Homo sapiens: one gene and its partners. The protein of the gene in region 1 interacts with the protein of each later gene in a biochemical or structural test. Each region holds a gene or a part of one and is shown on either strand. Other genes may lie near its edges.

What was found.
Region 2: of the proteins of CASP3 (region 1) and HCLS1, one has a biochemical effect on the other in vitro, tested with the Homo sapiens proteins (2 studies listed by BioGRID).
Region 3: the proteins of CASP3 (region 1) and BIRC2 form a complex in vitro, tested with the Homo sapiens proteins (3 studies listed by BioGRID, with this or other methods).
Region 4: of the proteins of CASP3 (region 1) and PTGES3, one has a biochemical effect on the other in vitro, tested with the Homo sapiens proteins (2 studies listed by BioGRID and IntAct).

Annotation. Positions count from the first base shown.
Region 1 is NC_000004.12:184,646,437-184,653,826, reverse strand, and holds the start of CASP3 (caspase-3 isoform a preproprotein), read left to right. Parts: upstream 1-4,379; 5' UTR 4,380-4,432; exon of another isoform or gene 4,433-4,719; intron 4,720-5,195; 5' UTR 5,196-5,362; intron 5,363-7,390. UniProt on the Homo sapiens protein: Thiol protease that acts as a major effector caspase involved in the execution phase of apoptosis. Following cleavage and activation by initiator caspases (CASP8, CASP9 and/or CASP10), mediates execution of apoptosis by catalyzing cleavage of many proteins.
Region 2 is NC_000003.12:121,657,882-121,665,340, reverse strand, and holds the start of HCLS1 (hematopoietic lineage cell-specific protein), read left to right. Parts: upstream 1-4,437; 5' UTR 4,438-4,521; intron 4,522-6,993; coding exon 6,994-7,077; intron 7,078-7,459. Other genes in the region: GOLGB1 (golgin subfamily B member 1), read left to right, coding at 310-415, 727-861. UniProt on the Homo sapiens protein: Substrate of the antigen receptor-coupled tyrosine kinase. Plays a role in antigen receptor signaling for both clonal expansion and deletion in lymphoid cells. May also be involved in the regulation of gene expression.
Region 3 is NC_000011.10:102,371,209-102,378,230, forward strand, and holds part of BIRC2 (baculoviral IAP repeat-containing protein 2), read left to right. Parts: intron 1-6,287; coding exon 6,288-6,542; intron 6,543-6,648; coding exon 6,649-6,690; intron 6,691-6,781; coding exon 6,782-6,975; 3' UTR 6,976-7,022. UniProt on the Homo sapiens protein: Multi-functional protein which regulates not only caspases and apoptosis, but also modulates inflammatory signaling and immunity, mitogenic kinase signaling, and cell proliferation, as well as cell invasion and metastasis.
Region 4 is NC_000012.12:56,685,281-56,692,253, reverse strand, and holds the start of PTGES3 (prostaglandin E synthase 3), read left to right. Parts: upstream 1-3,969; 5' UTR 3,970-4,254; coding exon 4,255-4,256; exon of another isoform or gene 4,257-4,990; coding exon of another isoform or gene 4,991-5,004; intron 5,005-5,336; exon of another isoform or gene 5,337-5,371; coding exon of another isoform or gene 5,372-5,385; intron 5,386-6,973. UniProt on the Homo sapiens protein: Cytosolic prostaglandin synthase that catalyzes the oxidoreduction of prostaglandin endoperoxide H2 (PGH2) to prostaglandin E2 (PGE2).

The DNA of each region.
Region 1 (7,390 bases):
CTGGGGGAATATGTCACCATATTAGAAATGCTTTTCATTCCCGGTGGTGAAAGAGTGTTGTCTTTCTTTTACATAATTGTGTATCAAAGCTCCTTTCCACTCAGGGACTGTAACTATTTTTGGTAAGTTTCCAAGTTCCGAAGGAAAACTTTTATTGTATTTTAAAAGATTGGGCTCCGCCCGGTGCAGTGGCTTGCACCTGTAATCCCAGCACTTTGGGAGGCCCAGGCGGGTGGACCACAAGGTCAGGAGTTCGAGACCAGCCTGGCCAACATGGTGAAACCCCATCTCTACTAAAAAACAAAATAAAAGATTGGGCTCAAAGAGTTTCTATTATTTAATTCTTAACATTGCACAGAATGTTTGTTTAACCATGTTTGATTATTTAAGCATGGTTGATACTGATCTTTCAACCAAAGGGGGTCAAGCTAGAAAAAAGGCTATGTTAGTTCTTTTCGAGTAACTATAGTGGGAGAAGAGGCAGCAGGGATGGAAGGGGAGAGATGACGCAGACCTAAGTAGCCCCAGCTTCCCTGCGTTTATGCCCAGCCTTGCCCAGCTGTGACACTTGATGGTCTGGATTCCAGGAGCAGCTGAAGGAGGGGGCACATGCTTCCTATTTACCAGTTTCTGGGGGGACCTGAAGCCAGCCTGGCCATGGTTCTTCCTAGCCTAGTTCTCTCAGTTTCTTTCTTTCTCACCTACCTACCTTCCTTCCTTCCTTCTTCTTTCCCTCCTTCCTTCCCTTCTTTCCTTCCTTCCTTCCCTTCTTCCTTCCTTCCTTCCTCCCTCCCTCTTCTTTCCCTTCTTTCCTTCCTTCCTTCCCTTCTTCCTTCCTTCCTTCCTCCCTCCCTCTTCTTTCCCTTCTTTCCTTCCTTCCTTCCCTTCTTCCTTCCTTCCTTTCTCCCTTCCCTCCTTCCTCCCTCCCTCCCTTCTTTCCCTTCTTTCCTTCCTTCCTCCCTCCTTTTCTTTTTTCTTTTTTTCTCATCACTGGTCAATTCCTATTCCCCAACTCCAAATTCTCCCTCTACCCTGAGATTAGATTCATCAGTATTTTGCATTTTCTGCCAATACTCTAGTTCTATGATTTGGTAATATCCTGGTATTTGACAATATTTTCTTAATATAATCCCTTTTCTAGCCTCTTGGAATGCATTCGTACTATTTCTCCCACTGCTAAAGTATTTATTATAAAGTATGTGATCAAAAAGCATTTACAAAAATATTATTATATAAGTTCACTTTCTGGATGAATAACACCTTAAGAAATTAAGTATAAGTGACTGGATTTTCCTTTTTTCTCCCACTTCAGTCACTTTGCCTTTCTATGCTTGAGCAGAAGTAACTCATATTTAAATTTCCCCAAATCCTCTTTAAGGAGTAAGAAAACACACAGCGATATATTGTGCTTTTTTTTTTTCCAGTTCCTCCTTTCTATCCTCCCCACAGGATCTCCCATCCAAACAGCATAACTCTGCCAGCCCAATCACCCTTAAAACCATTTTCATCACTTTTCACAGGGATAATGATTCATAGCAACATTCAACTCACACAGGTAAACTAACGTCACGAAGTCTAAACTCCCCTCCAGAATCTGGCCCTAAATCATTTACCTATTTCATTTCTTACTCTTCCACCATCTCACCAAATGAATTGATAATGACCTCTGCTTTCTCCTGAGCCACTCCAGAAACCTCCCCCCGCACCCAGCACACATTTCTCTTACCTGGAATGCCCCACGTTGCTTTTCCCGAATTCTTCCCCTTCCAGGCCCAGATCAAGTTCTGTCACCTCTGGGATACCTCTGTAAAGAGAAATTACTGGCTTCAGCCAGAAGACACTGCCTCCAGCCTACTGTTTGGCTATAATTAAAATGTTTGGCTGGGCACGGTGGCTCACGCCTGTAATCCCAGCACTTGGGAGGCCGAGGTGGGTGGATCACCTGAAGTCAGGAGTTCGAGACCAGCCTGGCCAACATGGTGAAACCCCATCTCTACTAAAAATACAAAAATTAGCTGGGCCTAGTGGTAGGCACCTGTAATCCCAGCCACTTGGGAGGCTGAGGCAGGAGAATCATGTGAACCCGGGAGGCGGAGGTTGCAGTGAGCCGAGATTGCACCACTGCACTCCAGCCTGGGCAACAAGGGTGAAACTCCGTCTCAAAAAAAAAAGTTCACAGACTAAGTAAATTAGTATGATTTACAGGAAACCAGAAAACTGCTGCTAATGCTTGCTAATTTGGCAAGAAAGTTTAGCACAGGAAGGGGTTTGGGCATCACAATAGGATAAGGACTAGTTCAACCACACTAGTCCCCTCTTTGCAAATTACTGCTCTGCAGAGCCACTGTTAAGGTTGGGAGTGGGTCCTATTTCTCAGTTTTATTGAGGCAGAAAAAGGACTGTCAAACATTGGTGTTCACTCAATTCAGGAGGGATAAAGAAAGGCCTAAGTCTTATTTGTGGGATCTGAGTTTAACTCCTGTGACTGTCTTTTTAGCAACAGCAAACTACTTAACCCCTTTTTTTTCTTTTTTTTGAGACAGAGTCTTGCTCTGTTGCCCAGGCTAGAGTGCAGTGGCGCAATCTCAGCTCACTGCAACCTCTGCCTCCCGGGTTCAAGCGATTCTCCTGCCTCAGCCTCTCAAGTAGCTGGGATTACAGGTGCCCACCACTGCACCCGGCTAATTTTTTTTGTATTTTTAGTAAAGACAGGGTTTCACCATCTTGACCAGGCTGGTCTCGAACTCCTGACCTCGTGATCCACCTGCCTCGGCCTCCCAAAGTCCTGGGATTACAGGCATGAGCCACCGCGCCGGGACTTAACCTCTTTAAACTCGGCCTTAACCTCTTTAAACCTTATCCTCTTTAAATTGGAATTCCTATCCCGAGGGATTGTTGAAAGGCTGAAACAAACAAATGTATTATGAAAATGTAAAAGCATGCAATAAACTCAGCAAGGGGTAACCATATATAAAACTAAGTATATTTCTGTGCAGAATATAGTCCCTATAGTCGAATAGGCGCAAGTGTTAGAAACAGGCTCTGCCATGGGGTCCCTGAATCTGACTTCTGAATGTCAAGAACTTTTTGAAATCTGATGCAGAATGTCGTGCTCACATGTGTTGGTGAATTCTTCTGCGAAAATGATTCACAGTTTGCTTCAGGGTCTGAAATGAGTTCACGACCCAAAATAGGAAGGGGATCGGTAGGGCAGTGTATATAGCACACCATTGACGTAACCATTAATAACTCCATCTTAGGAGAAGACCCCATTTTTACATTTCATAAGGCATTTGCCAACAAGCATACTATACTTTAATAAACAAATAAAAAAATAGTCCGCATCCAGCCAGGTAAGGACACAAACAAGCACTCTCTTCCATTACCAGTTCTCACCACAGGACTCTGTGACTATAAAAGATGGGGCCTTCGGCAGCTCCCAACAGCCGGCTTAATTGACGCCGTCTTTGCAGAAGGACCTCTCGGCCCAAACCAGGCTTCTTTTCCTCTTCTTCACTCCCTCTGGATTGGTTCGTTAATCTCTTTGCCCCATCTCTTTTTCCTCATGATGTTAAATGCTACTTTGTTGTGGGATGCTTAACTTGTAACATTTATATGTGGATTAAGTACACTACTATGATGCGTGAGCGGCTTGAGCCTGTGTGTCAGGCTCTGACTACCCAGTGACCAGCAAGTGCTGAGAACTGCCTCCTTGGGAACTCCACGCAGCTCGTGGCTTTTGTGATCGAAAGAGCGTCCACAGCAGCCTGACATGGTGGAAAACACAGCATGCGTGGACCTGGTTATTTCTAGCCTGGCACCCTGATGACAGGAGGTTAAGGCTTTTGATTTAGGGAGAGAGACCTGAGGGTAACCCAAAGAAAGGCCTCAGGTCATCGCAGAGGAGACAGAAATTACCGGTGGGCGTCCCGGCCTGCTCCTCTTCTTCCCAGAGCTCAAACTGGGCAGCAGGCCTGGCTTTGTCTCCCTTCTAGGTACCCGTTGGGCCTGGCGCGGTTTCCAAGTCTCCCTCAATTTCCCTCCAGAATCCCGCGCTGGGAGCGGAAGCCCGCGGACTCTCAGGAAGACCTAGATTTCAAATCCGGGGCGGGGGAGCCGGGCCGAGCCTCAGGGCGGGACCAAAGCGGGAGGACTGGCGCGGGACGCGAGGGCGGGACCAGGGCGTGAGGACGCGGGGCGCGGGGGCGGGGCGCGCTGCGGTGGGCGGGCGCCTCCTGGGGCCCAGCCTGGGGCTGGGTTCTCGGGCGGGCGGGAGCTAGGGGACGGGCCGCAGCGGAGGCGGCGCGAGGGGCCGACAGGGGCGGGCGGGAGGCGGGGCTGGCGCTGGAGCACATCTCCCGGCGGCGGGCCGCGGAAGCAGTGCAGACGCGGCTCCTAGCGGATGGGTGCTATTGTGAGGCGGTTGTAGAAGGTATGAGGAGGCTGTGCGGTGACTGCCGCCCTCGCTCCGGGCCGTCAGCCCTGCCCCCGCTCCCTGCGTTCTCCCAGGCCCTGCGCCCGCCCGGGTACCTGCCCGGTCTGGAAGGCGGAGTGTTTGTTTTGCCACCTCGCCCGGGCGGGGGCGAGCAGTGAAGCCCGCGGAGCGAGAGACTTGGCCCGGAGGCGGGAGCCTGGGCCGGGGCCGGGGAAGCCAGGCAGCGGGTTAAGGCTTTTGATTTAGGGAGAGGGACCTGGGGGTAACCTAAGGAAAGGCCTCAGGTCATCGGAGGGGAGACCTGGCCCGGGGGCGGGAGGCTGGGCTGGGACCGGGGAGGCCGGGCAGCGCGAGGCCGGGCCGGGGAGGCCAGGCAGCGGGAGGCCTGGCCAGGGGAACCGAGCCCGGGGCCGGGAGGTCGGGCACGGGGCACCGAGCTCCGAGGGCGGGAGACCTGGCGGCCGGCCGAGTGCCGGAAGGCCGGGTCAGGCGGCGGAAGGCAGCGGCAAGCTGGGAAACGGACGGCGCTACCGCCGGCGGAGGAGTGGCCCCGGGAAGCGGTGCTGCGAGGGCTGGGGCGGCCGGGTGCTGACTGTGAGATACTCGCCCTGGGGGCTGATCCTTCCAATTTTGGACGAGGCTTCCGTCTCTGCTGCCTTCCATGCCTGGGGCCTGGATTATCCCGGGTTGACAATGTGGTTTAGCTCTTCCAGAGAGATAGTTGCAGGGTTTAAACTCCAATTCCTTTTCGGCCCTGCAGAGTTTCGTGAGTGCTCGCAGCTCATACCTGTGGCTGTGTATCCGTGGCCACAGCTGGTTGGCGTCGCCTTGAAATCCCAGGCCGTGAGGAGTTAGCGAGCCCTGCTCACACTCGGCGCTCTGGTTTTCGGTGGGTGTGCCCTGCACCTGCCTCTTCCCCCATTCTCAGTAAGTGGCACCCAAGCAGGAAACCGGAAAACATCGTTCGCAGCCCCCTCTCGCCCACCCACTTCTTTTCCTGCTTAGTCGCCAAGCCTTGTCGACCTTGTAAATGTCTGCCAGATCTGTCCGCGTCTCTCTATCTCTGATTTCAGCCGTCTGACCACAGCAGCCTCTTCCCTGGTCTCTCCACTTCCAGACCCGCCTGCTCCTTTGCAGTCCACTTTTTACAGCACAGGCAGAGGGATCTTTATGAAATGAAAGTCTAGAAAGCTCGTCCTTTGCCCTTAGGTTAAACCCAGCACTTAATATGGCTAACAAACCCCTGCGTGTGTTGGGTCCTGAGTGCCCCCACCCCTCCTTATCTTTAGCACCGGTTCGATTTCTGCACGGCAATGCTGACCTTCATACCTAGTGTCTGCCTGCAACACCTCTGCACTCCCTTTCTCCCGCCATCACATTTGATTAGAAGAGCTGCTACTTAAATTTCTGTTTTCATTAAACAGTTTAAGGTTAAATCTTCCTATGCTGTGTTCTTTCTGCAGCCAGCATTCCCTAAGAGAGATGTGTCATATCCTTTGCAGTTGCTTGTTTACTATCTTCCCTGCTAGATTTGCAAGCAAACTCCAGGAGGGACGGACTTGGTTTATCTTGGTATCCTTAGTGTCTTGCCCCAAATGCGGGGCCTGGCATAACACAGTGAATGCCCATCCATTGTATTTTTACTTTTATGCCCTATCTAGAAAAAGTAGACCTGGTTTAGGATTATTCAGCAAATAATAATTAGAAAAGAAATGGTAGAGGTGACATACGGAGTCACTGAAACGATGTAAACCTGCAAGATAGCTGAAAGAGGGCCAGGCAAGGTGGTTAGACCAGACTGTATCAAAATGGGCTCAGCCACTGTGAATGTGCGTGCTGTGGTTACATAATCTCTAAAAATGAAATATAAAGCTTAAATCATCTCTATCACAGCCCGATGCTTGGACTTTGGTTTTGCTTTGCCTTTTTGCAAAAGAAGGTTTTTGAAAGTGAAAATTATTTTAGTGAATGGATGAACAGTTTATTGGAGTATGGCAATAAAACCTGTTCAAAGTAAGAGACATTAGACATTGTACCTAGTTAAATCAGATTTGCTTTTGCTATCCTGAATAAAGGCCTTGCCTCTTGCCATTTGAAGAGACTGGCATCTGATATAGGCAATTATAATGCTTCTTTACTGTTTTGTTTTCAAACCTCGTTTAACACAATCTCCTACTGCTTCATCCCCCTACAAAGCAGTCTTTATTTTGATGAATGATATATTACATTGCTTCTGGTGCCTACTATTAGATCTTTAAGCTCTGCCCCAAAGATAAGAAGCACTGGTGTTTGGGCCTAAACAAAGATGGGAGAATTCTTAGATTTATATAATATTCTTTCTCTGCATGTTTTGTTCTTACCTTCACATGTTGCCTGTAGAGCTTCTTTGCATTACAATAATGAAATCAAGCTACCTGATATGTATTGGACACGGTCTGGCATCTGCCTTGTTGAGCCACTTTTGAATACCAGTGAGCATCGGTATAAGCCCTGAATAGAGATAGGGTTTGTCTCTTCCACTGCTTGATACACTCAGGGTCTAGTATAGTACTCTGCACACAGTTGGTGTTCAGTAAATTGTTATGGTGCAAATATCAAATGAATAAATGCTACTGAATCTGAGTTTTGGCAGTTTCAGTCTTCCTGACAGCAGGATTTCTTCAAGCGGTTTTAAACTTGAATCTGATTCTGCAAAGTAGTCATCCTTGGTGGGAGTGCTGAGGCTTTAAAGTCATCTGTAATTTTTATAAAAAGGCATCCGAGATCCTCCATTTTACACTTATATCATACAAATCATTTAGATCTGTGAAGGCTTTCCCATTTTCTCCTTTTGTCCTTCCAAAAACACCATCTTAGGACTTCACCTGGCACAGGGAAGACAGATCGTTTGCACATACTAAGTGCCCTTCTTTCTAACTTGTGTCATAAACTCAGAGGCTTTGAATAGTGGAGAGT
Region 2 (7,459 bases), on another chromosome or scaffold:
CTTAGCACTTTGAAGATAATAAGACCAACCTCAGAACCTGAGGATTAAATGTATGTAAAGCACCCAGCCTAGAGCCTGATACATAGTGAGTAGGCAGTCAATTCCTGATAGTTATTGTCACATTTTGCTGCTGCTGAAGGAAACGTATCTGCTGGTACCCCCCTTGCATGGGTTTGGGTTTATGGGAGCAGCTTTTGCTGCAAGTCTCCTCCTGTGCTGCATTGTGTGGCAGGATGACTGGGAAGACTGGGCCTGATCAGCCTCTCATGCTATGAACCAATGCTATGCCTCTTTTTTTTCTCAACTCAGGTTAGAGCACAGTGAATGGGACTCTTCCCGGACTCCTATCATTGGCTCCTGTGGCACTCAGGAGCAGGCACTGTTAATAGATCTTACAAGCAACAGTTGTCGAAGGGTAAGAGGAAGAAGGATAAAGAGAGGGTGTTTTATTATCTGACAGGGCTGGCTATACTGGGGGCAAGGAGCTGAGGAGAAGGAATGTGGAAGTCCAGCCACTGAGCAGCGAATGAGTCTAAGGCTGGAAGGGCGTGGAAGATTAGAACCTGGTGGAATTTGCCAAGTTGTTGACTCTGAGGCAACTTTCCTCTCAGAATACCCCTTTCTACAGTGGTTGGGTCAGCTTTGCTTAAGTGCAAGACTAGTAGGAGGGAAAGCAACATAGCCCTATAGGGTGAAAACTCTCTGACTTTCACATTTTTCTTTCAGACCCGGAGTGGCGTTGGATGGAAGCGAGTCCTGCGTTCACTCTGTCATTCACGGACCCGAGTGCCACTTCTAGCAGCCATCTACTTTCTAATGATTCATGTCCTGCTCATTCTGTGTTTTACGGGCCATCTATAGACTTAGTTGTTACTCTTTGGACCACTCCCCTCAAAACTTGGAATTCTCTCACCTCTAACATCAGAACATCAATTCCAGTGGAACAGTCTTCCCATTTACAGGTCTTCTCTCCAACTCTTCACGGAAAGTGCCTGCAAAAACAGAGGTGGATACGAGGACAGGTTGGAGCTGCAGGGACTGGCGAGTCTGCTTTCTTCTACTGCCCTGAGCCTGAACGCTTCTGCTTAATCTGAGAATCACATTTGGTTTGTTGAGCCTAATATTTGTTGAGATTTTGCAGGACCCTGATCTTTTGTGGTCCTGTAAAAGATACTGAGGAATGTCTTTCAGCCAAGCCAAGAGGATGGTTTCAATAAACCTAATAATCTGAAGTTCAGTATCATTTTGATTGATAACTTTCTTTGCCTTGTTTGCCTGTATTTTCTCCTGTTTCAGGGGGAAGGTGGCTCTGCCATAAACAGAGTTCAGGGAAATGAACATGTCACCTCATAGGACATCTGATTTAGGTCTCTTGCAGAATAGGGTGGTGAAAGCTGAAGGAACTCCCTAGGGGTTTTAGCTGTTAGATCACATGGGAGGACAGCATCTTCTTCCCTGCCAATTTCAGATATAATTGGAGGGAGAATTTCAGGTCTTAGACTATAAGGATAGAATCCCTTTGCTTTTGCCCTTGATCACATGTATACTAAGGTATTAAGTGGCCCAAGTCTTTCCTTTCACCAAAGGGCAGGGAGAAGTGTCTATGGACAGCAGGGTTCCAATTCTTGTCATTCCAGGAATATCTGAATATTCCTGGAATGTGGACCCTGAGACAGTGCTCAGGGGCCACTGGGAGCCAATATTAGGCATTGACTCTCAGCCAGGAGTCTGACTGGTCTAACACCACACTGCAACTCCTGACCTCTTGAAGTACTAAGCTACTTTGCTGTTAGTGACAGTTATTACAGTTTCTCAGCCCCATTGTCTCTGCCCTCTGTGGCAATGGAAGGAGAATATAGAGAAGACAAAATTAAATATAGATAGACCTGAGAAGGACAGCCAGGATAGAATTCCATTTGTGCCTATTCCCTGCCTCCCCTCCCCTCCCCCATCCTACCAGTTGGTTATTTTCTCATTGCATACGTGATGTGTTCACTGCCTAGCCTCTCCCTAAAGAAGAGAGAAGACAAGTGGGCTGACTGATCTGCTCTAAATCTACTGTGGTGATTAAATCTTGGTTACAACATCCTGGGAAGTTTCCTGAACAACTGTAAAATAATAAAATTATTTTCAGAATGAAGAGTTTGTGTGTATGTGTGTGTACGTGTGAGTGAATGGATATGTGCACAGGTGTTTCGGTACCTGTGTTTGCATGCTGGGGGGTGGAAGGTGGGTAAGGGAAGTAGGGAAAGGAGGTAGCCAGGAATGGTTATAGGGGTAGAAAGCTCTACATATTCAGGCTTTCTTCTCACTGGCCAATATCAGTGACAGCTGCATGCATTTTTCCAGCCTTAGCTGCTAGACCCCAGGTGATGAATGCAGTGAGGAAATTCTATCCTAATACTGAACCAAATAAGCTGGGCCTTAGGGCATGAAATTGATGCAGGTCCATGCATGGTCCTGGGAGAACTCTTGTCTGGCACATAGTGAAAACATTAGGCCCCTAGGGATCCCTCTGGGTGGGAATGGGAGAAGAGAAGCTTAATAGCATGTAGCAGGTTAGATAGGCATTATTATGTTTTGTTTTGTTTTGTTGGGTTTTTTTTGAGACCGAGTTTCACTCTTTCGCTCAGGCTGGAGTGCAGTGGCACAATCTCAACTCACTGCACCTTCCGCCTTCCAGTTTCAAGCGATTCTCCTGCCTCAGTCTCCCAAATAGCTGGGATTACAGGCACCTGCCACCATGCCCGGCTAATCTTTGCACTTTTAGTAGAGATGGAGTTTCACTGTGTTGGCCAGTCTGGTCTCAAACTCCTGACCTTGTGATCCACCCGCCTCAGCCTCCCAAAGTGCTGGGATTAGAGGTGTGAGCCACCGTGCCCAGCTATTATGGATTTTTATATTAAGTTGCTGCTTGAGAGAAGATAGCTCACTTTCTCAAAGTACAATAAGTGGTTTAATTGAACCAAGTCTGTCTGGCTTCAAGGCCCATTCTTTTTCTGTGTGATACACCTCACTACCTCATCAGTAATGAACTTGTGACATTTGCTAAGGAAAGATGGGACTTCTTGGTGTCATCTCTGATTAATTTCTATATTTTCTCTAGAGAACTATGTACCTGGATGGTGTGTCACATCATCTAGTCTAAATCGTATTTTGACACTACATGAGGATTCCAAGTGATTTTTCTCTTGTACAAACGTACTCTTCCTTATCATAACTTTGGTACCACCATGATAAATAGGTAATAAAGTAGAAGGAATAAATAAAGCTCCCCCAGGCATAGAATCCTTAGATTTGGAAGTGACAGAGGCTTCATATTCCTAATGCAGAAAAGTGCCTGTATCATGGGCCAGTTTCATCCAGTCCTGCTTAAACTCCTTGGAGGATGCACCGTTGTGAACAAATCAAGAAGTCCACAATCAAGATTAGGAAAGGCTAGGTCAGATACAATAACAGACACCCTCAAATTCTCAGTAGCCAAAACAAAGGACTATTTTTTAGTGAAAGACTCCAATTCCCCCACATGGTGGATGGGGCTCCACTTGTGTTCTTTCTCACTCAGGGACCCAGTCTGCTGGAGGAGCCAATATGGAGAATTGCAGGTTGCCTTGGGCAGTGGTGAAAGCATGGCAAAGCTTGCAGTGGTCTTACGGCCTCCGCCAGAAAGTGGTATCTGTCACTGGCCAAAACAAGTCACCTGAGTAAGTCTGACTTCAAGAGGGAAGGGAGGGGCAGCAAGTCTTGACACGCAGTAAAACAGGATACCACAAAGACCTTCTTCCATCAGCTGACCAGCACCTGGTTCTTTCAGAATTCTTCCTACGCTCTAGAGCCAAATCTTTAGTTTGTTAGCTCAGACTCCACAGTGCCCCAAACAAGCTAGGAAACTCTCCTTCCATGTCTTGCCTTTTCCCTCATGAGTTATTCTCTTCTGGCATTCAATTGGTCGACGTTTATTTGAACATCTATATGAAAACTCCACTTTTAAGTGCTGTGGGTAATATAGGGGTGAGTTTCTTTTTAAGTCTTATGCTTCAAAACCCACATATAAATCACTTTTCCCATAAAGCCTTTCTTGATGAATACACCCAATACCAAATGCTCTGAATTCCTTTACTGTCTCAAATGTAACTGCCACCCTATTTAGGACACAATGCTGTTCTACAGCATTCTCTAATGTGTTTTCTGGTTGAATGTTTGTTTCTCTCACTGGATTACAAACTCAGAGTCAAAGCAGCATTTTCTATGACTGCTCTATGACCCCCATTGTCAAAACCTTGCAAAAGACCAGGCACAGAAACATTTAATCCTTTTAAAATTTAAGTGTCTAAAGCAGAAGGAACTGACTCAAATTTCAGGAAGTAGCTGTGAGGATGGGGTGGCAGGAAATGACGAAAACCTGAATACGGAACTGAAGCAGCAGCTCAGTTTCTCACTCCGAAGTGGCAGCAGCCAGAGAGGGAGTCGGTGTGGACGCGAGGAGCCGGGCGCTTAGAACAGAGGCTTGCACAGGTGGAGGTGGGTACTCTGAGCCATGGGACAGTTGGGAAACACAGAGTAAGAGTTGAGGAGGAACCTACCTGGCTCTTAGTCCTTGGTGATGGGCAAGGTCACCACTAGTAGGCTTTTATCCTTTTATGGCCAGAAGGCCTGGTTGTGAGTGGTTGTAGCAAATCAGCATCTGGAGATAGAAACAAAAGGGAGGGGCTTAAACCCAAGGCAAGTGTTTCAGGAGCCATCTAGCACCAACATCAAGCAAAGTGTTGCCTGGTTTCTGCTGACAATCTACAACCCACTCTAAGGCCTGTCTCCCCTAGGTACTGAGCTGGGAGGAGGACCACAGGAGACGAAAACAGTGTCTGCCCTTGAAGAGCATATGGTCTCAGGGAAACAAACCCACACAGGAAATGTAACAGATCAGGAAGTAGTCACTGATGTACACTAGCACTGAGTACCAAGTGCTGATGGAGCCCAAGAGAAGGCATGATTGTTCTGCTGGGGCTAGTTTCTGTGTTCGTAGATCACAGAATCTCAGAATGTCAGAAATCAAGGAGACCACAGATGAGCTACGTTAACCCCTTCATTATTTTCCACTGGGAAAATCAGAGATAATTGCTGATTTGCCAAATTATTAAAGTTAGTATTTCTTAATCGCCTGGTCTGATACCTGGCAAATGAGTACCTACTCTGTTGATGCCCTTGTGATGGTCCCTCAGAGGCTTAGTCACAGAGCTGGGGTGACAGCCAGGGCTTCTGACTCCCAGTCTGTGTACTTTGATGCAGGAGGTCAGCATCGCAACAAGGCCTCACCAGATTACTCTCTGGTTCTCACCTCTAGATAGCACTTCTTACCTTTCTGGTTTCTGGTCAATAGGTCAAGGATATTAGATAAATTGTCTCTATTTCAGAAACTCTTTATTTCAAAAATGGGTGAATGGGAGAGTCAGGCTGAGGCCTCAGAGGAGCCACAGGAAGGAGGATGGGACCATCAGTCCTCATTGCTTCCTTATTGCTCATGACTATTTCAGAAACTTCTCCATTCCAGTTTTCTGTGTGACAGTCCTTTTGTTGTTGCACAGCAGCCCAGGAGCCAGGGGATGAGAAGCAGAGGGGTAGTAAGGATGCAGGTAGTAAGGATGTTTTGCTGTCTCCAACCGCATCAGGGAAAGCCAAGCTGCTTTCAGCCATGACTCCCGGCTGACTCAGTCAATATCTCTCCGGTGTCCCCTTAGCATCTCTTTAACTGATTTACCCAGACTTCCCCTGGGCTGGTTTTTAAGAGGTTGCTCAATGGAGAAGATGGAGCTTTCAAGTGGAAATAGAAAACTGGAGAATCTGAAGGCCTAGGTGGAGACAGGAGAACCCGAGGAGTGGTTGTAAAGGGACTCTTTGGAGACGATGGAGAGCATGGGGAAGGTCTCCAATGGGATGAGGTGTCTGAGGAGGGAAGGATTGCCAGCTAGCAAGTGCTGCCAGGGTCAAGAAGTCTCAGTGGTGACCACAGCAGATGAGCATTGTCTGTTGTTACTTCTTCACACCAAATCCACAGATGCAGAGCAACTGTGCCGCTCTTCCTTCTGCACAGTCCGGAAGGCCGTCTAGAACACTGGGAATGCCCCAGCAGAATAAGTTTGGCACCCTTCCAAGCTAGGGTTCTCTAAATATTTCTGCAACATTTATTTAGTTGATAAAAACTGAGTACCTCTTAATGTTCAAAATCAGATTTATTACATATTATTCTTTTTTCTTTTCTACGGTAAATTGTCAACTTGAAAACATGCTATTTTTTGACTTTAGCAATTAATTGAACCATTTTTAAAAAATTGAGTAATAACTGACTTATTCCCAGCAAATAATGCTCTCCCAATGCATTGTTCCATGTGGAAATTTCAGCCGACTGTCGCTGCTGACCTTACACAGCTGTGAGGTGACCAGACTCAGGGTGGAGGTGGGACAGCACTTGGACCAGAGGCTGGAAAAATTCTCAGTGTAGTTCAGCAGGTTGTAAAGAGGGATGTAGATGTTCACTTTGTGAGAAGCAGAACCAATTTGTATTTCAACAGCAACAAAGGAATCATATATAGAAACCTGAGTGAAATAAGGCCATAATTCTAGGGATATTATAGCACCGCTCATTGCCAACCACCTCCAGCCACTGCCTGGCTGGCCTCGGGACACAAGTGAACAATTCCAGCAATTTTGACTCGTGGGTTACCTAGTGTTACCCACACCCATGATGACTTCTCTCTAGCCCCAGGTGGGCCCAGCCCACATCAATTCGTCTTGATTAAAGTCCCATCTCTCATCTTGTAACTGAGCAGAAAAGCCTTCCTACAACTCCCATTTGCTTTGCTTCATTTTCTATTTTCTTCTAAGAAAAAAAAAATGGCAGGAAATATTGGGCTGCTATATTTTGACTTCAGCATTCCTATTTTCCCTCCTCTTGATCCTTTTTTGTCCCTAATTATTCCCATCTCCGGTCACTCTCAGATGTGGAAGTCTGTAGTGGGCCATGATGTGTCTGTTTCCGTGGAGACCCAGGGTGATGATTGGGACACAGATCCTGACTTTGTGGTGAGTTTGGAAGTAGCTTTGCTTGGACAGTGCAGAGGGTGGGGTGAGGAGGGCATCTGGGCCACTCTGTGATCTTTGAGGATGCTTGGAAAAGGGCCTTCTAGGACTGAGACAGCCCTCATACTGGGACTAATTGGTAGGACAATTGGCTGTCACCTGTGGGGCATGCACGATACCTGGTATCAGGGATGAAAAGAGACAGGTGTGGGTGAGTTTGACAGTGTGATTGACAGGCCATGGCAGGCTACACTGAAGGTGAGAAGCAGGTGAACCTGGGTCTCCCCTGGCCCATGATCCAGGATTCAAGCTGGGCATGTGTAATTGGGGGATTAAAAAGCTGTAGGAGACCAGATGGGGTAGGCATGAAGTAGGCAGAGGAGGA
Region 3 (7,022 bases), on another chromosome or scaffold:
TAGGAGTGGTGAGAGAGGGCATCCCTGTCTTGTGCCCGTTTTCAAAGGGAATGCTTCCAGTTTTTGCCCATTCAGTATGATATTGGCTGTGGGTTTGTCATAGATAGCTCTTATTATTTTGAAATAGGTCCCATCAATACCTAATTTATTGAGAGTTTTTAGCATGAAGGGTTGTTGAATTTTGTCAAAGGCTTTTTCTGCATCTATTGAGATAATCATGTGGTTTTTGTCTTTGGCTCTGTTTATATGCTGGATTACATTTATTGATTTGCGTATATTGAACCAGCCTTGCATCCCAGGGATGAAGCCCACTTGATCATGGTGGATAAGCTTTTTGATATGCTGCTGGATTCGTTTTGCCAGTATTTTATTGAGGATTTTTGCATCAATGTTCATCAAGGATATTGGTCTAAAATTCTCTTTTTTTGTTGTGTCTCTGCCCGGCTTTGGTATCAGAATGATGCTGGCCTCATAAAATGAGTTAGGGAGGATTCCCTCTTTTTCTATTGATTGGAATAGTTTCAGAAGGAATGGTACCAGTTCCTCCTTGTACCTCTGGTAGAATTCCGCTGTGAATCCATCTGGTCCTGGACTCTTTTTGGTTGGTAAGCTATTGATTATTGCCACAATTTCAGATCCTGTTATTGGTCTATTCAGAGATTCAGCTTCTTCCTGGTTTAGTCTTGGGAGAGTGTATGTGTTGAGGAATTTATCCATTTCTTCTAGATTTTCTAGTTTATTTGTGTAGAGGTGTTTGTAGTATTCTCTGATGGTAGTTTGTATTTCTGTGGGATCAGTGGTGATATCCCCTTTATCATTTTTTATTGCGTCTATTTGATTCTTCTCTCTTTTCTTCTTTATTAGTCTTGCTAGCGGTCTATCTATTTTGTTGATCTTTTCAAAAAACCAGCTCCCGGATTCATTGATTTTTTGAAGGGTTTTTTTGTGTCTCTATTTCCTTCAGTTCTGCTCTGATCTTAGTTATTTCCTGCCTTCTGCTAGCTTTTGAATGTGTTTGCTCTTGCTTCTCTAGTTCTTTTAATTGTGATATTAGGGTGTCAATTTTAGATCTTTCCTGCTTTCTCTTGAGGGCATTTAATGCTATAAATTTCCCTCTACACACTGCTTTGAATGTGTCCCAGAGATTCTGGTATGTTGTGTGTTTGTTCTCATTGGTTTCAAAGAACATCTTTATTTCTGCCTTCATTTCGTTATGTACCCAGTAGTCATTCAGGAGCAGGTTGTTCAGTGTCCATGTAGTTGAGTGATTTTGAGTGTTTCTTAATCCTGAGTTCTAGTTTGATTGCACTGTGGTCTGAGAGATAGTTTGTTATAATTTCTGTTCTTTTACATTTGCTGAGGAGAGCTTTACTTCCAACTATGTGGTCAATTTTGGAATAGGTGTGGTGTGGTGCTGAAAAAAATGTATATTCTGTTGATTTGGGGTGGAGAGTTCTGTAGATGTCTATTAGGTCCACTTGGTGCAGAGCTGAGTTCAATTCCTGGGTATCCTTGTTGACTTTCTGTCTCGTTGATCTGTCTAATGTTGACAGTGGGGTGTTAAAGTCTCCCATTATTAATGTGTGGGAGTCTAAGTCTCTTTGTAGGTCACTCAGGACTTGCTTTATGAATCTGGGTGCTCCTGTATTGGGTGCATATATATTTAGGATAGTTAGCTCTTCTTGTTGAATTGATCCCTTTACCATTATGTAATGGCCTTCTTTGTCTCTTTTGATCTTTGTTGGTTTAAAGTCCGTTTTATCAGAGACTAGGATTGCAACCCCTGCCTCTTTTTGTTTTCCATTTGCTTGGTAGATCTTCCTCCATCCTTTTATTTTGAGCCTATGTGTGTCTCTGCACGTGAGATGGGTTTCCTGAATACAGCACACTGATGGGTCTTGACTCTTTATCCAATTTGCCAGTCTGTGTCTTTTAATTGGAGCATTTAGTCCATTTACATTTAAAGTTAATATTGTCATGTGTGAATTTGATCCTGTCATTATGATGTTAGCTGGTGATTTTGCTCGTTAGTTGATGCAGTTTCTTCCTAGTCTCAATGGTCTTTACATTTTGGCATGATTTTGCAGCTGCTGGTACCGGTTGTTCCTTTCCATGTTTAGTGCTTCCTTCCGGAGCTCTTTTAGGGCAGGCCTGGTGGTGACAAAATCTCTCACCATTTGCTTGTCTGTGAAGTATTTTATTTCTCCTTCACTTATGAAGCTTAGTTTGGCTGGATATGAAATTCTGGGTTGAAAATTCTTTTCTTTAAGAATGTTGAATATTGGCCCCCACTCTCTTCTGGCTTGTAGGGTTTCTGCCGAGAGATCCGTTGTTAGTCTGATGGGCTTCCCTTTGAGGGTAACCCGACCTTTCTCTCTGGCTGCCCTTAACATTTTTTCCTTCATTTCAACTTTGGTGAATCTGACAATTATGTGTCTTGGAGTTGCTCTTCTCGAGGAGTATCTTTGTGGCGTTCTCTATATTTCCTGAATCTGAACGTTGGCCTGCCTTGCTAGATTGGGGAAGTTCTCCTGGATAATATCCTGCAGAGTGTTTTCCAACTTGGTTCCAATCTCCCCATCACTTTCAGGTACACCAATCAGACGTAGATTTGGTCTTTTCACATAATCCCATATTTCTTGGAGGCTTTGCTCATTTCTTTTTATTCTTTTTTCTCTAAACTTCCCTTCTCGCTTCATTTCATTCATTTCATCTTCCATTGCTGATACCCTTTCTTCCAGTTGATCGCATCGGCTCCTGAGGCTTCTGCATTCTTCACGTAGTTCTCGAGCCTTGGTTTTCAGCTCCATCAGCTCCTTTAAGCACTTCTCTGTATTGGTTATTCTAGTTATACATTCTTCTAAATTTTTTTCAAAGTTTTCAACTTCTTTGCCTTTGGTTTGAATGTCCTCCTGTAGCTCAGAGTAATTTGATCGTCTGAAGCCTTCTTCTCTCAGCTCATCAAAGTCATTCTCCATCCAGCTTTGTTCCGTTGCTGGTGAGGAACTGCGTTCCTTTGGAAGAGGAGAGGCGCTCTGCGTTTTAGAGTTTCCAGCTTTTCTGTTCTGTTTTTCCCCCATCTTTGTGGTTTTATCTATTTTTGGTCTTTGATGATGGTGATGTACAGATGGGTTTTCGGTGTGGATGTCCTTTCTGTTTGTTAGTTTTCCTTCTAACAGACAGGACCCTCAGCTGCAGGTCTGTTGGAATACCCTGCCGTGTGAGGTGTCAGTGTGCCCCTGCTGGGGGGTGCCTCCCAGTTAGGCTGCTCGGGGGTCAGGGGTCAGGGACCCACTTGAGGAGGCAGTCTGCCGGTTCTCAGATCTCCAGCTGCGTGCTGGGAGAACCACTGCTCTCTTCAAAGCTGTCAGACAGGGACACTTAAGTCTGCAGAGGTTACTGCTGTCTTTTTGTTTGTCTGTGCCCTGCCCCCAGAGGTGGAGCCTACAGAGGCAGGCAGGCCTCCTTGAGCTGTGGTGGGCTCCACCCAGTTCGAGTTCCTGGCTGCTTTGTTTACCTAATCAAGCCTGGGCAATGGCGGGCGCCCCTCCCCCAGCCTCGCTGCTGCCTTGCAGTTTGATCTCAGACTGCTGTGCTAGCAATCAGCGAGACTCCGTGGGCGTAGGACCCTCCGAGCCAGGTGTGGGATATAATCTCTTGGTTCGCCGTTTTTTAAGCCAGTCTGAAAAGCGCAATATTCGGGTGGGAGTGACCCGATTTTCCAGGTGCGTCCGTTACCCCTTTCTTTGACTCGGAAAGGGAACTCCTTGACCCCTTGGGCTTCCCAAGTGTGGCAATGCCTTGCCCTGCTTCGGTTTGCACACGGTGCGCGCACCCACTGGCCTGCGCCCACTGTCTGGCACTCCCTAGTGAGATGAACCCGGTACCTCAGATGGAAATGCAGAAATCACCCGTCTTGTGCGTCGCTCACGCTGGGAGCTGTACACCGGAGCTGTTCCTATTCGGCCATCTTGGCTCCTCCCCTCCTTCAATAAATATTTGTTGAGCATGAGCACCAGTGCCAAATACTGTGCCTAATCACAGTGGTTGCTGTCAAGGAGTATATACACTAGCTGGCGAGACTAGTGTGCAAAAGACAGGGTTAAAGGGCCAGCAGAGAGGCGAAGGTTGCATATGTATTGGAGTATTGCGTTGGAAGATGCTTTCTTTTTAAGCTTGTAAGTAAAGACAGGAATAACTTAAGAGTACCTTATTGCATGACCGTGTAGCAAAATATTTAAAGTCTGGACTTCTACATTGAAACAGATTTGTGTTTAAATTCTAGCTCCAGGCTGGGCGCGGTGGCTCATGCCTGTAATCCCAGCACTTTGGGAGGCCAAGACGGGCGGATCACAAGGTCAGGAAATTGAGACCATCCTGGCTAACACGATGAAACCCCGTCTTGACTAAAAATACAAAAAATTAGCCGGGCATGGTGGCGGATGCCTGTAGTCCCAGCTATTCGGGAGGCTGAGGCAGGAGAATGGCGTGAACCCGGGAGGCAGAGCTTGCAGTGAGCCGAGATCGTGCCCCTGCACTCCAGCCTGGGTGACAGAGCCAGACTCCATCTCAAAAAAAAAAAAAAAAAAATTCCAGTTCTATCAGTTACTAGCTTGGCTATTTATTCAACCAGACATCGGCTTTCTCATCTGTAAAATGGGGATAATAATAGTATGACTCCCATAGGGTTGCTGTAGGAATTAAATGAGATATTGCAAATAAAACACTTTAACACAGCTCCTAGCACGTCAATTTTTTTTTTTTTTTAAGCATTAGGTAGATTGACTTGGGAAGTGGGAGGGACTTGGTGAAAGAAAGGGCCTAAGAAAAGTCAATTTAAGGATTGTTAAGTAGTAATGAAATCCAGCTAAGGTTATATGAAATCACTGTCACCTTAGATTTATGACTTTCTCATACTTTGTATGGGTTGGAAAATAGTATTGAATTACAGATTTGGCAGTGTTAATAGGGGAAAGGGCAAGTAAGGAATACGGAAGATGAGTTAAGGGTGCTAATATAGAGAACTTCATTGAAATACCTGACTGCTACCTAGATTAGAATAGGAGGTTTGAAGCAAAGCCAGGAGATAGCTCTTGTGCAAGTAGAATTGGGAATGACATGGAGATCTTGAAAAGGTGAAGAACAAATTGGTTAGCAGTGAGAGGAATTATTTAGGTAGAAGAAAAAGTTGTCACAGAATGGAATTTTATAGTTTTGAGATTAATAGAGCAGTTCACTTCTAGAGAGATGTAAAAGGGGAAAGAAGATAGGCTTCTGTTTTTATAATTTATTTCTCATTAAACTGGTACTTTGTAGAGATGTACTTTTTAAATTTTTTTGAAAGTCTGAAAATAGACAAATTTTATAATGATTCAGATACCAAAAGAAGGAACTACCATATTCCATAAATATAAATTAACTGTGGAGTTTTATGTGATGCGATATTAAAGGAAAAACATTGGCTTTTTAAAAAAAGGTCAGGCTTGATTCTTAGGTAGTTTTTTTTAATTGCTATAAACATAGACATTTATAAAATAATAATGGTAGTTAACTATGTACCACATATTGTGCCAGATGCTTTACATGTATTATTCAATCCTTACAACTTTGAGGAAGGTACCGTTATGTATATTTTACAGATGAGGAAACTGAGGTGTATGGGGAAGGATGAGGACACATAGCTAGTGAGTGGGCCTAGCCAACACTGGAACCTAGGTCTGTTTTGACTTGGCAACTCAAACCCTACAATACTACAATACCACGTCTTAAGTATGGGGTGTTGAAAAGAACACTGGTCTAGGATGCCTGGTTCTGCAGCTTATTCTTTCTTGTGATCTTAGGCCACTCATTCTTTTCTGAGTCTTTTTTCTCCCTATGTAAAAATGAGAGGCAGTAATACTCGCCTTGTTTAATTGACAGGATCACTGTATCAAATGAGACAAATTACTATGAAAGTGCTTACAAAAGTAAAATGATATAATGGAAATACAAGAGTATTATTATATATGGTGGGGGGAAATTTTTACTGTCTTCTACAAATCTCTTGCAACAAAATAAAGTAAAAGCGGAGTTCTAGGACATGTAAATATATAGACTTAAAAATTAAACAGAGACTTCCTCTGGAAGTTTTCCAAACAACAAACTTACAAATGCAAACAAGTTACTTTGTTCTTTTTTGAACTTTATTTAGTGCCTAAATTGTTTGTAGGGTTGGTTATTAGTGACTATATGAGTATAGTTAAAGGAGTTTAAAATCTAATGGATTTCTTTTTCTTTTTTTAATGAAGATGATTTGTCATTAATTCGGAAGAACAGAATGGCTCTCTTTCAACAATTGACATGTGTGCTTCCTATCCTGGATAATCTTTTAAAGGCCAATGTAATTAATAAACAGGAACATGATATTATTAAACAAAAAACACAGATACCTTTACAAGCGAGAGAACTGATTGATACCATTTTGGTTAAAGGAAATGCTGCGGCCAACATCTTCAAAAACTGTCTAAAAGAAATTGACTCTACATTGTATAAGAACTTATTTGGTGAGTTTGTTGGGAAAATTATTTTAGAAATTCTTAGGACTGGCCAGATGCGGTGGCTCAGTTTTGTATTTAGTAGAGTAATGGTTTTTATGTTTTCTTTCCTCAGTGGATAAGAATATGAAGTATATTCCAACAGAAGATGTTTCAGGTAAAACAAAGATTTAAAACCAACATGAACTATTACCCTTTTTTTTTAATGAAGTGGAAACAATTTCACTAAAGTTATTTTTTGTTATTAGGTCTGTCACTGGAAGAACAATTGAGGAGGTTGCAAGAAGAACGAACTTGTAAAGTGTGTATGGACAAAGAAGTTTCTGTTGTATTTATTCCTTGTGGTCATCTGGTAGTATGCCAGGAATGTGCCCCTTCTCTAAGAAAATGCCCTATTTGCAGGGGTATAATCAAGGGTACTGTTCGTACATTTCTCTCTTAAAGAAAAATAGTCTATATTTTAACCTGCATAAAAAGGTCTTTAAAATA
Region 4 (6,973 bases), on another chromosome or scaffold:
CACCACACCCAGCTAATTTTTGTATTTTTAGTAAATATGAGGTTTCACCATGTTGGCCAGGCTGGTCTTGACTCCTGACCTCAGATGATCTACCTGCCTCAGCCTCCCAAAGTGCTGGGATTACAGGTGTGAATCACTGCTCATGGCCACCCAGGCAGGTTTTGAACTCCTGGCCTCAAGACATCCTCCCACCTTGGCCTCCCAAAATGTTGGCATTACAGGCATGAGCCACCATGCTTGGCCTAAAACATAAGTAATTTTAAAAATGATTTTATTTGCTGGGCGCAGTGGCTCACGTCTGTAATCCCAGCACTTTGGGAGGCCGAGGCAGGCAGATCACCTGAGGTCAGGAGTTCAAGACCAGCCTGGTGAACATGGTGAAACCCCGTCTCTACTAAAAAGAGATCGTGCCACTGCATTCCAGCCTGGGCGACAGAGACTCCATCTAAAAAAAAAAAAAATTTATTTTTTCAAAGACAGGGTCTCCCTACGTTGCCCAGGCTGGACTTGAACTCTTGGGCTTAAGCAATCCTCCCACCTCAGCCTCTCAAGTAGCTGGGACTACAGGTGGCTACTAGTAATGTTTATATTAAGCTGGGTCATAATATCTCTTTTAAGGTTTATGGCCAATTTTTTTTTTTTTTTGAGACAGAGTCTCGTCACCCAGGCTGGAGTGCAGTGGGGAGATCTCGGCTCACTGCCACCTCCACCTCACAGGTTCTGCCACAGCCTCCCAAGTAGCTGGGATTACAAGCACCCACCACCAAGCCTGGCTAATTTTTGTATTTTTAGTAGAGACAGGGTTTCACCGTCTTGGCCAGGCTGGTCTTGAACTCCTGACCTCATGATCCACCCATCTCAGCCTCCCAAAGTGCTGGGATTACAGGCGTGAGCCACGCGTGCCCCGTCTTTTTTTTTTTTTTTTTTTTTTTTTGAGATGGAGTTTCGCTCTTGTCACCCAGGCTGGAGTGCAATGGCATGATCTCGGCTCACTGCAACCTCTGCCGCCCAGGTTCAAGCAATTCTGCCTCCGCCTCCCAAGTAGCTGGGATTACAGGCGCCTGCCACCACGCCCAGCTAATTTTTGTATTTTTAGTAGAGATGGGGTTTTGCCATGTTGGCCAGGCTGGTCTTGAGCTCCTGACCTCAGGTGATCCACCTGCCTTGGCCTCCCAAAGTGCTGGGATTACAGGCATGAGACACCGCGCCCGGCCCAATTTTTATTCCCTATACCCAGGAGACTTTTCTTTTTTTGAGACAGAGTTTTGCTCTTGTCGCCCAGGCTGTAGTGCAATGGCATGATCTCGGCTCACTGCAACCTCCACCTCCTGGGTTCAAGCAATTCTCCTGCCTCAGCCTCCCTGGTAGCTGGGATTCCAGGCATGCGCCACCACGCCCGGCTAATTTTGTGTTTTTTAGTAGAGATGGGGTTTCTCCATGTTGGTCAGGCTGGTCTCGAACTCCCAACCTCAGGTGATTCGCCCGCCTCGGCCTCCCAAAATGCTGGGATTACAGGCGTGAGCCACCGCGCCCGGCCTCCAGGAGACATTTTTACCATTTTGCACCCTTTCCCTTTGACTTCCTAATACAAAATTAACAACTTCTAAGTTGTTATCTTATTAGAAAGCCCCCTTATAAAATAGGATTGTTCTCACCTTCAATTAACAATTTTTTTAATTGCTCAAATCAGTCTATAAAGTTCTCTTTTGCAATTTGTGACTCTGGACATATATTTAAATTCAGTCGTTACAGGAGGATCAATTGGACCCAGAAGTCAAGACTGCAGTGACCTGTGATACCACTACTGCACTCCAGCCTGAGTTAAAGTGAGACCCTGTCTCAAAAACATAAAAAAAAAAAAAAATTTAGCCTGACATTCAGTGCCACCATTATTTGGTTGTGACCTATTTTTTCTTTTCTTTTTTTTTTTTTTTTTTTTTTTTTTACACAGAGTCTCACTGTCACCAAGCTGGAGTACAGTGGTACAATCTAGACTCGCTGCAACCTGCGTCTTCCGGGTTCAAGAGATTCTCCCACCTAAGACTCCTGAGTACCTGGGATTATAGGCACACCACGCCCAGCTAATTTTTGTATTTTTAGTAGAGATGGGGTTTTGCCATGTTGGCCAGTCTGGTCTTGAACTCCTGACCTCGTGATCCGCCCGCCTCGGCCTCCCAAAGTATTGGGATTACAGGCGTCAGCTACTGCTCCTGGCCAAATATTTTGTATTTTTAGTAGGGACGGGGGTTTCACCATGTTAGCCAAGCTGGTCTTGAACTCCTGATCTCCAGTAATCCACTGGCCTCGGCCTCCCAAAGTGTTGGGATTACAGGCGTGAACCAGTGCGCCAAGTTAACTTCCTTTTTTTTTTTTTTTTTTTTTTGAGACCCAGACTCACTCTGTCGCCCAGGCTGAAGTGCAGTGGCGCGATCTCGGCTCACTGCAACCTCCGCCTCCCGGGTTCAAGCGATTCTCCTGTCTCGCTCTCCCGAGTAGCTGGGACTAGAGGCGTGTGCCACCACACCCGGCTGATTTTTTTTTATTTTTAGTAGAGACGGGGTTTCACCATGTTAGCCAGGATGGGCTCAATCTCCTGACCTCGTGATCTGCCCGCCTCTGCCTCCCGAAGTGCTGGGATTACAGGCGTGAGCCACCGCGCCCGGCCCCTTCCCTTTTTTTTTTTTTTTTTGACACAGGGTCTCACTCTGTCGCCCAAGTTGGAGTGCTCACTGCAACCTCCGCCTCCCGGGTTCGGGGTTCGAGCTATCCTCCCGCCTCATACTAGCTAGTATTTGGCATTACAGGCAAGTGCCACCACGCCCTGCTAATTAGTATTTTTAGTAGAGATGGGGTTTCACCATGTTGGGTGGGCTGGTCCTGAACTCCTGACCTCAGGTGATCCGCCCACCGAACTTCCCAAAGTACTGGGATTATAGGCGTGAGCCACGGGCGCCCCGCCCAATTTCCCTTTTTAATGGCATTTGAGCTAGGGTCCAGGTTTCGTAGCTCCCACTACCTGTCCTGCACAACACAGACACTAAATACCTTAGTGCTTATTATGAAGCCCCGTTCTTCAGAAAGGTTTTATAGCACTTTCGTTAAACCTCCTTCCTGTTCAAAATGCAGCGCACTAGAGTATTTTTCCCCAATCCACCGTTAAGCGGCTTCTTCTTAAGCAGGACTGTTTTGGGTCTCTTGGTTGCTACCCCTACTACACCCTACTAATATGTTGCACAAAGCGACGGGGAACCCCTTCTCCCCCAAACGATGTGCGTGGAAACACACAATGTCCTACTCTCTCCATTCCCAGAAACCTAGACTCTCCCCTCAAATACCTTTCCTGGCTCATCTACAGCACTAAGGTCTCAAGGTAGGGGCAAAAGCCCGCCCCAATTGGCAAATGCTCCTCCTCCGCCAAGAACCTCGAATTTCCGCTGTCCCTGGACAGAGCCTCCAACCTTCAGAAAAATGGCGAGGTGGACCCAGGCCCTTGATTCTGAAGTGAGCCCTTTTCCACAGCACAGGCTTTTTACAGGTTTTTGTGGTGGAATGATGACTCAGTGAGCTGATTTACTCCCTCAAGAGTAACCAACGCGCCATTTCAGTTCTCCAGGATCCCGACTCCGTGTCCCTCCGCCTCAGCCTTGCCTCCCACTGTCAACGCAACCGTTTCTCAGAGAAATCGCCGAAGGCGCATGGCAGGGCAGTTGGGCCACTAACGGTTTTCTAACGCGAGAAGACAGAGCGGGAGGAGAGGCGGGAACGCGTAGGGACTAGCAGGGGGCGGAGTGGGGGTGGGGTGGCGGACGAAGGGCGGGGCCGGCGCCAGGAAGGATCGCGAAGGAGCTGGGAGGCCCCGCCCTTTCCGTAGATATCTCTAGAAAGCCGCGCCGGAGCCCAAAAACAAGGACTGCGCACGCGCGGCGGCAAGGCCCGGGCATTTTGCTGCGTCACCAGCCGCCGCCCGGCCTCACCACCCCTCGTTTGCACGCACGCACGTTCATTCTCCGTCCTCGCGCCCCTTTTCCTACACTTTCCTCTTCTCCCCGACCGGAGGAGCCGCTCTTTCCGCGCGGTGCATTCTGGGGCCCGAGGTCGAGCCCGCCGCTGCCGCCGTCGCCTGAGGGAAGCGAGAAGAGGCCGCGACCGGAGAGAAAAAGCGGAGTCGCCACCGGAGAGAAGTCGACTCCCTAGCAGCAGCCGCCGCCAGAGAGGCCCGCCCACCAGTTCGCCCGTCCCCCTGCCCCGTTCACAATGTGAGTGCGACACCCCGCCGAGGGAAGGTCGCCGAGTGAGGCCGAGGCCGCGTTGGGGGCTCCCTGGAAGCGGCCCCCTAGCCTTTCTCGCATCGGTGGTGGCAGTCGTTCCTGCCTGGGGGCGGGAGGTCCAGGATCCTTGTTCCGGTTACCGTTGGCGGGTGGAGGACATTTTTCCTCCAGATGTCTGCTTCCCCCACCCCTGAACCGTTCCTTGGCTTCCCCATGCCGGAAATCCTACTTTTACCCCTTTGGCTGTCTGGGTTACTCGCCTCTTTCGGTAACTTCACCCTAGGCCTTAAGCTCCCGGTAGCTGCTCGCCATGCGGCGCCCTGAAGCGTGAACCTTCGTGGGTCGCCTCTCGGCTGCTTGGGCGCTCCGGTTCTGTTGCTTTGTGGTCCCGGGGCCAGGCCCTGAGTCGAGTGCACCTGTGGTGGGTGCCGCCAGGTGCCTGGCGGAGCTCCTGGGAGAGCCCCACGCGGACCTCGCCGTGAGCTGCAGGTACTGCTAGGCAACTAGAAGGAAGCCATGCCCACGCCGCAACATACTTCCCTCTCCAGTGTCTGGGTTTCTTGAGTGTGGGTACTTCCAGTCCGCCTCCTAACTCCAGTCTCTTGAAAACACGGGAGGTTGCCAAAACTCAGCCGCTTCCCTGGCAGCGAGGAGGAGTTACCATTGAGCAGGTAGTTCCGCACGTGTCGACTTTGGAAAGATACGGACATTTTCTGTGTTTCATGTTCTACTTGAGGTGAGGTTTCACTATCTTGTTACAGTGTAGGATGAAATAGGTATGTAGTAGGCATTTAATTAACCTACAGTCGTCCCAAAGATCTTAAATTTGTGTGGAGGTGAATACAGATTCTATGGCAGTCTTCATTTTACGATGATAAAGGAAAGCCTTGGCGATTTTAACCGGTAAGAATTCTTGGCACTGCCGCGTACAGTGGGAACTGCCGGTTTTACAGGGTTTTTTTTTTTTTTTTTTTTTTTTTGACGGGAGGTTATTTTTCAAGGTACTAACTACGTCCTAAAAGGTATGGAGAACAATTAAGGTGGAACCTTTTTTTTCTTTTGTTTTAGACTCCATTCAGAAGAGAGAAGAGGGGAGTGACTTTATGTCTTTGGAAAAGTAATAAGGATTTGCTTGATTCAAGTCATGATACTGAGGCTGAGTATATTGGCTAGAAATCTAAAGGGATGCGTGAGGCTGAAGCGAGTTTATCACTGGGAACAAGCTTCTAGAGCACAGCATGTTAGAATTTTTGAAGGAGCCCCCTCCCCGAAAGTGATACGTAATCGGGGTTTTAAAAAATTTGAATTAGGCTGGGCGCGGTGGCTCACAACTGTGATCCCAGCACTCTGAGAGGCCGAGGCGGGCGGATCACCTGAGGTCGGGAGTTCGAGACCAGACTGACCAACATGGAGAAACCGCGTCGCTGCAAAAATACAAAAAAAATTAGCCGGGCGTGGTGGCACATGCCTGTAATCCCAGCTACTCGGGAGGCTGAGGTTAGGAGAATCGCTTGAATCTGGGAGGTGGAGGTTGCGGTGAGCCGAGATCATGCCATTGCACTCCAGCCTGGGCAACAAGAGTGAAAACCCGTCTCAAAATAAATAAATAAATTTGAATGTATATAAAATAGTTTTTGCTTTTCTATTTGAAAGCTCTCCTAAGTAATGTAGAAGGGACATCAGTCTTAACCTTTCATACTCTGAAAATCTGTAAGGGGAAATTTTTTGTCAGATGAGGCATTAAGCAGCTTTTAATAATAGAGCCAAACAACATATCTTTTCGCGAAAAGTATGTTTAAAATTGGCTTGAAGTAGAAGCATTTGATGGAGGCCACATGAGATATTTAAATAGGTAAGGAACGGCTATTACTAGGAAAGTAGATTTAAAAACTTGGGTGAAAAGTAAGTGTAAGGCCAGGCGCGGTGGCTCACGCCTGTAATCCCTATACTTGGGAGGCCGAGGCAGGCGGAACACGAGGTCAGGAGTTAGAGACCAGCCTGGCCAATATGGTGAAACCCCGTTTCTACTAAAAATACAAAAACTAGCTGGGTGTGGTGGTGCATGCCTGTAGTCCCAGCTACTCCGGAGGCTGAGGCAGGAGAATCGCTTGAACCCAGGAGGTGAAGGTTTCAGTGAGCAGAGATTGCGCCGTTGTACTCCAGCCTGGGCAATAGAGGGAGACTCCGTCTCAAAAAAAAAAAAAAAAAAAAAAAAGTAAGTGTAGCAGTAGAGAGACTATTCCAAAAAGTAGCCTCTCTAGTTAAAAAATAAAAATGCTACTTTCATGCCGGGCGGGGTGGCTCACTCCTGTAATCCCAGCACTTTGGGAGGCCGAGGCGGGTGGATCACGAGGTCAGGAGATCGAGACCATCCTGGCTAACACGGTGAAACCCCGTCTCTACTAAAAATACAAAAAATTAGCCGGGTGTGGTGGCGGGCGCCTGTGGTCCCAGCTACTTGGGAGGCTAAGGCAAGAGAATGGCTTGAACCCGGAAGGCGGAGCTTGCAGTGAGCGGCGATTGCGCCACTGTACTCCAGCCTGGGCGACACAGCGAGACTGTCTTAAAAAAAAAAAAAAAAAAAAAGAAAAGAAAAAATGCTACCTTCAAAACGAGTGATTCAATGCCACTTGAAGAGTGTTGGGCTGGGGGAAACAAGTGTTTTGAAGAGACCAGCTAAAATATTCTTTTAAAAATAATATATG